Regions from separate parts of the Homo sapiens genome. Here all the other regions are linked to region 3. Evidence: fine-mapped expression QTL. A gene starts in region 3. Each other region holds a variant in brackets. All regions are shown on one strand. Distances are from middle to middle. Region 1 has its middle 41 kb from the start of RD3. Region 2 overlaps RCOR3 (REST corepressor 3). Region 3 holds the start of TRAF5 (TNF receptor associated factor 5).

Region 1 (4,351 bases), 120 kb before region 3:
ATATCAGTTGTAATGTCTCCTTTTTTGTTTCTGATTTTATTTGTATCTTCTCTGCTTTCTTCTTAGGTAATCTGGTTAAAGGTTTGTCAATTTGGTTTAACTTTTCTTTTTTTTTTTTCCTGAGACTAAGTCTCGATCTCGGCTCACTGCAACTTCCGCTTCCTGGGTTCAAACGATTCTCCTGCCTCAGCCTCCTGAGTAGCTGGGATTACAGGCACCTGACACCATGCCCAGCTAGTTTTTTTTGTATTTTTAGTAGAGACAGGGTTTCACCATGTTGGCCAGGCTGGTCTCAAACTCCTGACCTCAGGTGATCCACCCGCCTCGGTCTCTCAAAGTACTGGGATTACAGGCATGAGCCACCGTGCCCAGCCTGGTTTAACTTTTCAAAACAACAATATTTTGTTTCATTGATCTTTTGGGTTTATTGCAATTTTATTTCTTTCTGCTCTGATCTTTATTATTTCTTTTCTTCTACTAATTTTAGGTTTGGTTTGCTCTTGCTCTTCTAGTTCTTTTTTTATTTTCTTAGCCTCCCTCACCCCCTGCCACCTTCTGGTTCTTTAAGATGCATTGCCAGATTGTTTATTTGAAGTTTTCCCAAAGTGCTGGGTGGCTCACACATGTAATCCTAGCACTTTGGGAGGCCGAGGTGGGCAGGTCACTTGAGCTCAGGAGTTTGAGACCAGCCTTGGAAACATGGCAAAGCCCTATCTCTACAAAAAATTAGCCAGGTGTGATGGCACACACCTGTAGTCCCAGCTCCTTGAGGGGCCTGAAGTGGGAGGATCACCTGAGCCTGGAAGGTCTCAGCTGCAGTGAGCTGTGATTGTGCCATTGCACTCCAGCCTGGGTGACAGGTGACAGAGTGAGACTCTGTCTCAAAAAAAAAAAAGAAAAGAAAAGAAAGAAAGAAAGAAAAGAAGAAAAGAAAGGAAAAAAAGAGAGAGAAAGAAAGAAAAGAAGAAAAGAAAGGAAAGAAAGAAAGAAAGAAAGAAAGAGAAAGAAAGAAAGAAAGAGAAAGAAAGAAAGAAAGAAAGAAAGAAAGAAAGAAAGAAAGAGAAAGTCTTCCTCTTTTTTGATGTAGGCACTTGTAGCTATAAATTCCCTCTTAGTACTGCTTTTGCTGTATCCTATGTTTTGGTATGTGTGTTTCCATAATCATTTGTTTCAAGAAGCTTTTCAATTTCCTTCTAAATTTCTTCATTGACCCACTGGTCATTCAGGAGGATATTGTTTAATTTCCATATATTTGCATAGTTTCCAAGATTCCTCATGTTATTAATTTCTAGTTTTATTCCATTGTGGTCAGAGAAGATGCTTAAATTTTTTTGAATGTTTTAAGACTTGTTTCATAACCTAACATATGGTCTATCCTTGAGAATAATCATGTGTTGAGGAAAAGTATGTGTATTCTGCAGCTGTTGGATGAAATGTTCTGTAAATATCTATTAGATCCATTTGGTCTACAGTGTAGATTAAGTCTGATGTTTCTTTGTTGATTTTCTGTCTGGAAGATCTGTCCAATGCTGAAAGTGGGGTCCTGAAGTCTCCAGCTATTATCATATCAAGGCCTATCTCTCTCTTTAGCTCCAATAATATTTGCTTTATATATGTGGGTGATCCAGTGTTGGGTGCATATATATTTAAAATTGTTATATTCTCTTGCTGAATTGACCCCTTTATCATTATATAGAGACTTTCTTTGCCTCTTCTTATAGTTTTGGTCTTGAAATTTATTTGTTTGATGTAAGTATACCAACTCCTGCTCTTTTTTGGTTTCCATTGGCATGGAATATCTTTTTCCATCCCTTTATTTTCAGTTTATGTGGGTCTTTATAGGTGAAGTGTGTTTCTTATAGAAATAAATCAATGGGTCTTGTTTATTCATCTATTCTGCCACTCTACGCCTTTGACTTGAGAGTTTAGTCCATTTACATTTAATATTATTATTGATAAGTAAGGACTTACTCCTGCCATTTTGTTATTTGTTTTCTGGTTGTTTTGTGTTTTTTTCTTCCTTCTTTTTTATTTTTCTCTTTTTAAGGCTAGTCAATATTTCTTTTTTCCTTCTTGTCTTCCTTTAGTTATGATGATTTTCTTTGGTGATATGATTTAGTTTCTTGCTTTTTATTTTTTGTGTCTCTATTGTATGTTTTTTGGTTTGAGGTTACCATGAGGCTTGCTGATACTATCTTATGATCCATCATTTTAACCTGATAACAAGTTAACACCGTTTGCATAAAGAAACAATCAAAAAGAAAGTGAATAAAAACTCTATGCCTTAACTTCATCCCCTTGCTTTTTAACTTTTTATTGTCTCTATTTTTATCTTATTTTACCAACTATGTCTTGAAAAGTTGTTGCAGTTATTTTTGATTGGCTCATCTTTTTTTTTTTTTTTTTTT[TG/G]AGAATGGGTCTCACTCTGTTGCCCAGGCTGGAGTGCAGTGGTGCAATCTCTGCTCACTGCAGCCTCCACCTCCCATGTTCAAGTGATTCTCCTGCCTCATCTTTCTGAGTAGCAGGAATTACAGGTGCCCGGCACCACGCCCAACTAACTTTTGTATTTTTTATAGAGATGGGGTTTTGCCATGTTGGCCAGGCTGGTCTTGAACTCCCGACCTCAAGTGATCCACCCACCTCAGCCTTCCAAAGTGCTGGGATTACAGGTGTGAGCCACCGACTGCACCCAGCCTGGTTCATCATTTAGTCTTTCTACTTAGGATGAGTAGTTTACACACCACAGTTACAGCATAATAATATTCTGTGTACTATTAACAGTGAGTTTTGTACCTTTGGGTGATCACTTATTGCTCATTAATGTCCTGAATGAAGTACTCCCTTTAGCATTTGTTGTAGAACAGGTGTGGTGTTGATGAAATCCCTCAGCTTTTGTTTGTCTGGGAAAGTCTTTATTTCTCCTTCATGCTTGAAGAATGTTTTTGCTGAATATACTATTCTAGGGTAAAAGATTTTTTCCTTCATCACTTCAAATATGTCATGACATTCTTTCCTGGCCACTGAAAAATCTGCTGCTAAATGTATTGGCACTCCAATGTATATTATCTGTTTCTTTTCTCTTGATGCTTTTAGGGTCCTTTCTTTATCTTTGACCTTTGGGAGTTTGATTATTAAATGCCTTGAGATGGCATTCTTTGGGTTAAATCTGCTTGATGTTCTATAACCTTCTTGTACTTGGATACTGATATCTTTCTCTAGGTTTGGGGAGTTCTCTGTTATTATCCCTTTTGAATAAACTTTCTACCCCTATCTCTTCTCTACTTCCTCTTTAAGGCCAATAACACTTAGATTTGCCCTTTTTAAGCTATTTGCTAGATCCTGTAGGTGCGTTTTTATTTTTTCTTTTGTCTCTTCTGTGTATTTTCAAATAAACTGTCTTCCAGCTCACTAATTCTTTCTTCTGCTTGATCAATGCTGCTAAAGGGCTCTGATGAATTTTTCAGTATGCCAACTGCATTTTTTTTTTCAGCCAGAGTTTCGCCGTTGTTACCCAGGCAGGAGTGCAATGGCGTGACCTTGGCTCACTGCAACCTCCGTCTCCCGGGTTCAAGCTATTCTCCTGCCTCAGCCTCCCAAGTAGCTGGGATTACAGGTGCCTGCCACCACATCCAGCTAATTTTTGTTTTTTAGTAGAGACGGGGTTTCACCATCTTGGCCAGGCTGGTCTCGAACTCCTGACCTCAGGTGATCTGCCCACCTTGGCCTCCCAAAGTGCTGGGATCACAGGCGTGAGCCATCTTGCTTGGCTGCCAACTGCATTTTTCAGCTCAAGAATTTCTGCTTGATTTTAAAAAATTATTTTAGTCTCTTTTTAAAATTTATCTGATAGAATTCTGAATTCCTTCTGTTATCTTAAATTTCTTAGAGTTTCCTCAACACAGCTATTTTAAATTATCCATCTGAAAGGTCACATATCTCTTTCTCCAGGATTGGTACCTGGTACCTTATTTAGTTCATTTGGTGAGGTCATGTTTTCCTAGATGGTGATAATGCTAGTAGATGTTCTTCAGTGTCTGGGCATTGAAGAATTATTTACTGTAGTCTTCACTGCCTGGGCTTATTTGTATCTATCCTTCTTGGGAAGGCGTTCCAGATATTTGAAAGGACCTAGGTGTTGTGATCTAAGCTGTATCTGCTTTAGGGAGCACCCCAAGGCCAGTAATGCTGTGGTTCTTGAAGACTCATGATGGTCTTGGACAAGATCTGGGAGACTTCTCTGGATTACCAGGAGAGACTCTTGTTCTCTTCCTTTACTTTATCCCAGAGTATTTCTCTTTGTTCTGAGCCACCTAAAGCTGGGCATGGAGTGACACAAGCATCCCTGTGGCCA
Region 2 (4,000 bases), 43 kb after region 3:
AGACACATACTTAACATGTGAGGACACAGAAATGTTGAAAGTAAAATGATAAAGATAAACCAGGCAAATACTTAACAGAAGAAAAATGGTGGAGCTATCAACATAACAGATAAAATAATCTTCAAGGCAGAAGCCAATAAAAGAGACCCTACATATTGATAAAAGGCTCAATTCAGCAGCAAGATAAAACAATTTGTATGCACCTAATAACACTAACTTCAACATATAAAAAACTACTTCTCAGTAATTGAGTGATCAGAATAATTGATCACATAAGCAGACAACAAAAACCAAGCTATCAAGTAGGCAAGCAGTAAGAATATGGATTTCAACTACAGAACTGACAAACCTAAATTAATGGACATATATAAAACCTTGTTACCAAGATAATATCCCTAAGCACACATGGGAAAACATTTATGAAAATTCCATACTCTGGGCTTGGAGGTTTAAAACATGTCAACAAATTCCTCAACATTCCTGCCATGGGGAAGCAGGGGTCTATATTCCTTCCCCTTGATTCTGAACCAACTTTAGTAACTCACTTATAACCACTGAATGCAAGAGAAGTGACTCTGAGTAACTTTCAAGGCTAGGCCAGAAACAGCTGAGTAGTTTCCACTTAGTGCTTCCGGGATTGATTACGTTGGAGGAAACCAGCCATTATGGCAAGAAGTTAGATTACTCAGAGACCACCAAATTGGAGAGGCCAAATGGAATTGCTCCAACCTACAGCTAGCATCAACTACCAGCAATGTGAATGAGTCAAAAACCTTTAATAACAACCTACTTGATGTTGAAACAAAAACGATTCTCTTTACGATCAGAAAAATGTTCCCTATCATATCTTCTATTCAAATTATATTGGTGATACTAACCAGTTCAGCAAGAGAAGAAATAAGATACAAGGACTAAAAAGAAACAAAATAGCTATTATTTTCAGGTAATATAAATCACTATATAGGAAATCAAAAGTAATACAAATAAGTTATGAAGAGCAAAGGTCCAAGAATAACCAAGGTACACACTCCTTAAGAAGAACCACCAAATAGCAGAACTTACCCTAGCAACTATCAAGACTTATGAGGCTTATTATAAGTAATTGAAAAAATGTGGGATTAGCAAGGAATATTTAACTGACAACAGAAGCAGAATAGAGAGCCAGGCATATGCGTAAGCCTCATATAAAATAAAGCTGGTATTGCAGACCAGTTGAAAAAGATATTCAATTCCGTATTAAAAAATAAATAGCCAGGCATGGTAGGGCTCACACCTGTTATCCCAGCACTTTGGGAGGCCAAGGTGGGAGGATCACTTGAGCCCAGAAGCTCAAGACCAGTCTGGACAATGTAGCAAGACCCCATCTCTACAAAAAGTTTTTTAAAAAATTAGCTGGGTGTGGTGGTGCATGCCTGTAGTCCCAGCTACTTAGGAGGCAAGAGGATGGCTTGAGCCCAGGAATTTGTGCCAGAAGTGAGCTATGATTGTGTCACTGGCACACTAGCCTGGGTGACAAAACAAGACCCCCAACTGTTAAATAAATACATAAATAAATAAATAAATAAATAAAGGATCTCTACCTCACAACATGAACTTATTTACTGCTACAGCAAGGACTTCAATGTAAAAAGAGAAAAAGTTTAAAATTTTCAAAAGAAAATGTAAAAGAATACTGGAATTTAAATTTAAAATTGGCCGGGCACAGTGGCTCACGCCTGTAATCCCAGCACTTTGGGAGGCTGAGGCGGATGCATCACAAGGTCAGGAGATCGAGACCATCCTGACTAACACAGTGAAACACCGTCTCTACTAAAAATACAAAAAACAAACAAACAAACAAACAAAAAAACAATTAGCCAGGCGTGGTGGCAGGCGCTTGTAGTCCCAGTTACTCAGGAGGCTGAGGTAGGAGAATGGCGTGAACACGGCAGGTAGGGCTTGCAGCGAGCCGAGATCCCGCCACTGCACTCCAGCCTGGGCGACAGAGCGAGACTCCATCTCAAAAAAATAAATAAATAAATAAAATAAAATAAAATAAATAAATAATAAATTTAAAATTTATATGCTTTTGATGAAATAGCTGTTTACTTCCCTGTAGAGAGTAAAAACACAAACCACAAACTGGCAAAAGATATTTGCTGTTAACCAAAGGACTCGTATCCAGAATATACAAAGAATTCAATAAGAAAAAACTTTTTATATTCAGTCTTTAAGAAAAAGACAAATACGCAGTGGAAAAATGGGTGAAAAAAAAAAAAAATACAAGCCAGGCATGCTGGCTCACGTCTGCAATCCCAGCTACTTGGGAGCATGAAGCAGGCGGATCATTTG[A/G]GCCCAGAAGTTTGAGGCTGCAGTGGCTATGATCACACAACTGCACACTAGCTTGGGCAATAAGCAAGATTCTGTCTCTAAAAAAACAAAACAAAAACCTCCACGAACGAAACATATAACAACAGCTAATAAACAGATAGAAAAACATTCAGCCTCAGTAGTTACCTGATGAATGAAACTGAGGACACAATGAAATGCCTTCTCATATTGCCAGATTTGGAACATTTTAAAAGTCTGATCAAGCATTGGCAAGGAAGTATACAATGGGTATTCTCACAGTCTAGTGGAGGTATATCAGCTATAGAAAACAATTATGCCATTACCTAGGAAAGTTTAATGTGGCTATTCCCTAAAATAGAGTGACTCCATTCCAAAGAATCCTGGGACCCTGTTACTCAGTAAATCACTGTTGGCATTTTGGTGAAACAATCTGTGCTTTGCACTTCAGTATAGTTGTCACCCCTTTCTCCTGCCCACTCGACAACTGAAATGCCCCACAATCACTGTTAACAATGAAAACACCTCCATAATTTCTAAATGTCCCCTATGGGGTCAGTGCTAAACCTAGCTGAGAACTATTGTACCAAAGGAACTCTCAGACATGTGTATCCAGAACATGTTCATATCAGCAGTGTCCGTAATAAAAAGCTGGAAATTAAGTTTATTAATTGGAGAGTGAATAAGTTGCAGTATATGTATACAATGGAACACTATAATATAGCAATAAAAATGAATCGCAAAAATAATAACAAAAGGCAAGTACTGAAGAATACATACAATATGATTCCAATTAAATAAAGTATGAAATAAATGAAACTAAATGATAATCATATCATCATATGTGATTATATATATGTGATAAAACTATAAAGAAAGAAGTGAATAATTTAGAAATTTCATTATAGTGGTTCCCTCTAGAGAGAAGGTGAGACTATGCAATTGAGGCCGGGCACGGTGGCTCACGCCTGTAATCCCAGCACTCTGGGAAGCTGAGGCAGGTGGATCACCTGAGGTCAGGAGTTCTAGACCAGCCTAGCCAACATGGCGAAACCCCATTTCTACTAAAAATACAAAAATTAGCCAGGCATGGTGACGCATGCCTGTAGTCCCAGCTACTCGGGAGGCTGAGGCAGGAGAATTGCTTGAGCCCAGGTGGAGGTTGCAGTGAGCCGAGATCGTGCCACTGCACTCCAGCCTGGGCGACAGAGTGAGACTCCCTCTCAAAAAAAAAAAAAAAACAAGAATATCCAATTGAGGAAACACAAACAGGACTTCTGTTTCTTCAGCTCAGTGGTAGATACACTGGTATCTATTATTTTTCTTTAAATAGTTCACAACTTTTAAAAGTTAAAATTAAAACTTTCTATGTAATATGTTAACAACATGCAGAAGCAGCTACAAAGATCTATATTAAAAGCAATAATGTAGTTTCTTTCCCTGCCTGGTATCCTTATTGTTTGGAATGAGCAGAGAAATGAATGAAGCTGCTGACACATAGTGCTAGTCTTGGACCACACCTCTGCAGTATCCTCTTAAAACTTTTTAACTTATACTCCCCTCATATTATTTTCTGGTAAGATGAGATCATAAGCAAACAAAAGACCAAATGAGTATGCATCATCTTGCATAGTTGGGCAAAACTATATATTCCATATATATACATACATAT
Region 3 (4,351 bases):
TTGTGGTGGTTAGGCCAGAGTCTCCAGCAGAACTTGCTCCATGTTGCTGGGGACAGACCACAGAGGCATTATCAGAATCTGGGTCCCCTTGCTGACCCCTCAGACGGAGGAAGAGGTGGGCAGATATGGCTCTCTGAGAAGCCAGGGTGAGGGGCCTGGAGCAGGGGAACAAGACACCTCAATGCTCTGATCCTGGTCCAGCAGTGGAGCTCAGGGAGCTATTTACCGCCTCAGTGCTTCACCCTCACAATCTGAGAGATGTAGAGAATAAGCCTGCTCTAACTCATGAGGGCGTCATGGAGGACGAAATGAGAACAAAACGACAAGAACAAAGAGAAAATGCTTTGCAAAGGAACGAGCTTTACAAACAAATAATTATTTTTCCTTCAAGGTCCTCCCCAGTAAAGCTGAGCTAATCAGAGGAGGTTTGTCTAAGTACTGAGGTGCCTTTCCCACTGCAAGCCTAACAAGACTGACTCTGAGGCATCTAGCTCCCCGACTGTGCAAATCATCCCCACTGAAACATCCCAGTCCCTATCGTCAGGACGTTCAGTGGACGGCAGCTCTTTTCCACACTCTTTCCATCGCCCTACTACCCAAGTCCAGCGGGCTTGCTGCTGACAGAGGGAAATACCACCATCCTACCCTGCCCGTCACAACAGGCCTCTCAGCCCAGAGGCCGTGGGAGAAGTCGCCTTCTCCATCACTTCCCATGTTCCAGATGCTGGCTCAGACACTTTCTCCTGCCTCTGTCCAGGAGCCAGGGATCTGAGAGGTGATCCATTCCATAGAGTTACAACAAAAACAGTAACTGTAACAAAATCAAAAACCTTTACAGAAGCTAGGCGTTTTCCACTTCCATCTTACATCCATCGTTCCTGCAGCAATTTCTGTCTTTCTAGTTCAAATTAGAGTTAGGGATGGAAGTGTTTCCACCCAAACCATCAATTACATTAACACCCCTGTTTTCAGCTTTGTGAGTACATAAGGCAGAGCAGCTGCACTGGGATTTGAGAGTTCCTAGCCCAGCCTTTTGCTGCCTAAAATTATCTCGCACACACCCAAAACTGTTCTATTTCCAGAAATGGTTCAACTAATTTCTTTGCATCTCAGGTCTTCCAGAGCCCTTTTAAAATGCAAGTATCTCTGGAGGAAATAACCATATTCCACTGGCCCCAGCCCAGTTCTCACACAGCACCTGCCCAATAAATATTTACAGAATTAAACTGGTTACCAGATGCCTATCCTCACAGGAGGTGGGTCAGAGCCCAAGGCTATGGAGGGTGGGGGCTGCAGGGGCAGCCCTGGCAGGGAGCCTCGCCTGGTTTCACCAACCTCAATGCTCGCCTGAGGCAGCTCTGCCTGCCACAGCGAGATAACTGAGTTCTCATGAAAGTAAATCTGAAATACCCAAATATGGAAACTTAGCAGAAGGAGGCCGAATGAGCAGAGAAAGTCGGCCAGCCAGAGTGGCCCAGTGGGACCCGCAGCAAGAGCGTGGCCCCGAAAATTCTCAGAACCACCAAGACCCTGCAGAACAGGAACAAAGTGGAGACCATCTGGTACGGAGAACTCAGAATCTGCGAATTCTCTGGGTGCCTCTGGGCAACTCCTTCCACCTCTCGGAGCTTTGGTTTGCGTCAAGGTTCCTTAGAGCTCGCCTTCTGGGGGAGGGGGGTAGCTGCTTTCTAAAGGAAGACGCGCAAACGAACAGCTGGTAGAGGCTTCCATTCCTTGCAATCCTGAAGTTTCATTCTGGAGTTGCTTTGATTGGAAAGCCCTGCAAAGGTGGAGAGGGTGCCTTCGGGTGCGGAAGGGGGCCAGGGCCTGGTTTGCAGTGCGGATGTGCGGGACGTGCCTGAAAGTCCTCCCCGCCAGTGCACCCCGACGGAACCTGGCCCCTCCGGTCCACAGCCGCCCTCTGGACCAGCTCCCCAGCTTTGGACCCCCAGTCTCCGCCCTCGCCACACCTCTCCCCGGCTAAGAAACCCGCTCCGCACCGCTCCCGCTGTCCCCGGGCCGTCGGCGGTCACCTGCCCCGCCGGTCTCCCGCAAGCCCGGGCCCCTCCGCCTCCCCCGGCCCAGCCGCCGCCTCGCGCCCTCCCCGCCGGTCGGGGACCGGCCGGACGCCAGCAGGCGCTTTCGGTTTCAAAGTAACTGGGACGAGATGAAAAGCGCTCGTCGGTGTCCCCACCCCGGCCCTTCCGTCGCGAGGGTGCCCAGGGCGGCGACCCGCCGGACTCACGTGGGGCTCGGCGCGCGGGCTCCGCGAGGCCGGTCTGCAGGCGCGGCTGCTGCTCCTGGCTGCGGCCGGCGGCGGCGGCGAAGCGGAGGCGAGGCCTGGGGCGGGGCCGGGGCGCGGGCGGAGGGGCGCGGGCGGGCGCAGGGGAAGAGCGGACGCGCAGGAAGGGGTCGGGAGGAGGCTGAGACCGTCATCCAGGCGGTTGGAAAGCTAACCTACCCGCTTCAGAACCGTTAGTATCTACAAGTCCAGTCATCTGATTTCCCTCACGTGCGTCTGAATTGTGGCCGTCTTGCTCTTCCGTCAGGCACAACAAGGCTCAGCCCGTCCTCTCCTGTGTTGACCCATTTGCTCAAGGCCTTGCTTGAGATCTGGCTCAAATCAGTCCTTCCTGGACTTTCCTTCAGGGTAGCACAAATTTGCCAGCCCTCCTCTTGCTGTTGGCCTAACACCAGCAATCTCTGAGAGTTGTAGAGCTCCCCGGTTGGCTTCCCAAACATCTCCTGTGGTCCTCAAAACAAGCTGGTGAAGTAGGCCTGGTCATCCCCATTTTACAGATGAGCTGTCTGAGGGCCAGAGCAGCAACGTGGAGTGACGTACCCAAGGTTAGACACGCTCAGCAAGCTCTGCAGCTGGAACTTGAATCCAGGTCTGCTGTCTGCCTGTCTCTCTCCCTCTCTCTCTCTCTATACGTATTTTTTATTTTATTTTATTTTTTGAGACGGAGTCTCGCTCTCACGCCAGGCTGGAGTGCGGTGACGCGATCTCGGCTCACTGCAACCCTGGCCTCCCAGGTTCAAGCAATTCTCCTGCCTCAGCCTCCCGAGTAGCTGGGATTACAAGCATGTGCCACCACGCCGGGCTAATTTTTGTACTTTTAGTAGAGACGGGGTTTCACCATGTTGGTCAGGCTGGTCTCATCTCTTGACCTTGTGATCCGCCTGCCTTGCCCTCCCAACAGGCGTGAGCCACCGCGCTTGGCCTGCGCACTCTTAGATACGGGCTCTTTCTTACAATATATTCTCTCCAAGGGCAATACATTCTATATAAATGAAATGGACCAAAATTCCAATTCTATCTAGATCCTTTACTTTCAGTTAGGCCACCGTGGGAAAAGTACTTAACTGCTCTGAGTTTCAGTTACCGTCCTCGTCAATAAAAGGGGAGAATAATACACACCTTGGGAGTCAAAAACTCAGATGTGCACAGGAGCTCGGCAGGAAACATACAGGAGGGAGGCAGAGGTTGTGGTCATGGAGAAAGGAGGGAGGCGCTGGTGCACTAAAGAGCAGGTGGAGGATCTAGTGGAGCAGCCACCACCCAGTGCCAGCCTATTGTTACCTGATCTCTTATTTCTCCAAAGAGCCAGAAATCCAGATCCAAACCTTTTTTGGTTGGTGAGTTAGATGAACCGCTCCGTGGGGGAGAGGCACTGGTGGGTGTTGCTTTGGGACTGTAGATCTGTCTCATAATCTTCTCATGAGAATTAAATGAGATGGCACTCCTGTACGCCTAACACAGAGTAGGTGCTTAGTGAACCCAAGTTCTCCTTCCTGTTCTGCCATACACTATACTTTCCCTCTCTTTTTGTGGGTGTGTATTTTTTGAGAGAGGTTCTCACTCTGTCACCCAGGCTGGAGTGCAGGGGCATGATCACAGCTCACTGCAGGCTGGATCTCCTGGGCTCAAGTAATTCTGCCGCTTCAGCCCCCAGAGTAGCTGGGACTACAGGCACACACCACTACGCCCACCTCCCCCAGCTCCTTTTTTTTTTTTTTTTTTTTTGAAGAGATGGAGACTTACTATGTTGCCCAGGCTGGTCTCAAACTCCTGGGTTTAAGCGATCCTCCCACCTCGACCTCCCAAAGTGCTGGGATTAAATGTGCAAGCCACTACGTCCCACCCGCTTTCTCTTACCATTGCCTGCTTCTTGCCTCTCTTCTCATTACTTCCAAGCATAATAAAGTTGATACTGTTTTTTAGAAGTTATATCTCCTTTCACTGGCTGGAACATCAGTGTCTAGTATGCATACATGCAGGTATGCTCAGAATCCCTGGTCCTGTCATTGACTGTAATTTGCTTCTCTCTCCTACTCCTCTCCCCACCAA

What was found. PIP is the estimated chance that this variant, and not a neighbour inherited with it, causes the effect.
Region 1: its variant is the best candidate, but not a certain one, in a credible set for the expression of TRAF5 in whole blood (INTERVAL, PIP 0.67).
Region 2: its variant is the best candidate, but not a certain one, in a credible set for the expression of TRAF5 in whole blood (TOPMed, PIP 0.76).

What each region holds. Positions count from the first base shown.
Region 1 is chr1:211,448,878-211,453,228 of GRCh38, reverse strand. No RefSeq gene overlaps it. Among named protein-coding and RNA genes, the nearest start is that of RD3, 41 kb to the left of the region's middle. The variant TG/G (reference allele first, on the strand shown) is at 2,409.
Region 2 is chr1:211,282,073-211,286,072 of GRCh38, reverse strand. The region is part of intron 7 of RCOR3 (REST corepressor 3); the gene reads right to left. Among named protein-coding and RNA genes, the nearest start is that of RCOR3, 25 kb to the right of the region's middle. The variant A/G (reference allele first, on the strand shown) is at 2,332.
Region 3 is chr1:211,324,784-211,329,134 of GRCh38, reverse strand. It overlaps TRAF5 (TNF receptor associated factor 5), which reads right to left and starts at 2,302. Exons shown (of 11, transcript NM_001033910.3): 1 at 2,246-2,302. RefSeq lists a silencer at 2,008-2,377 and enhancers at 2,438-2,827, 3,097-3,598.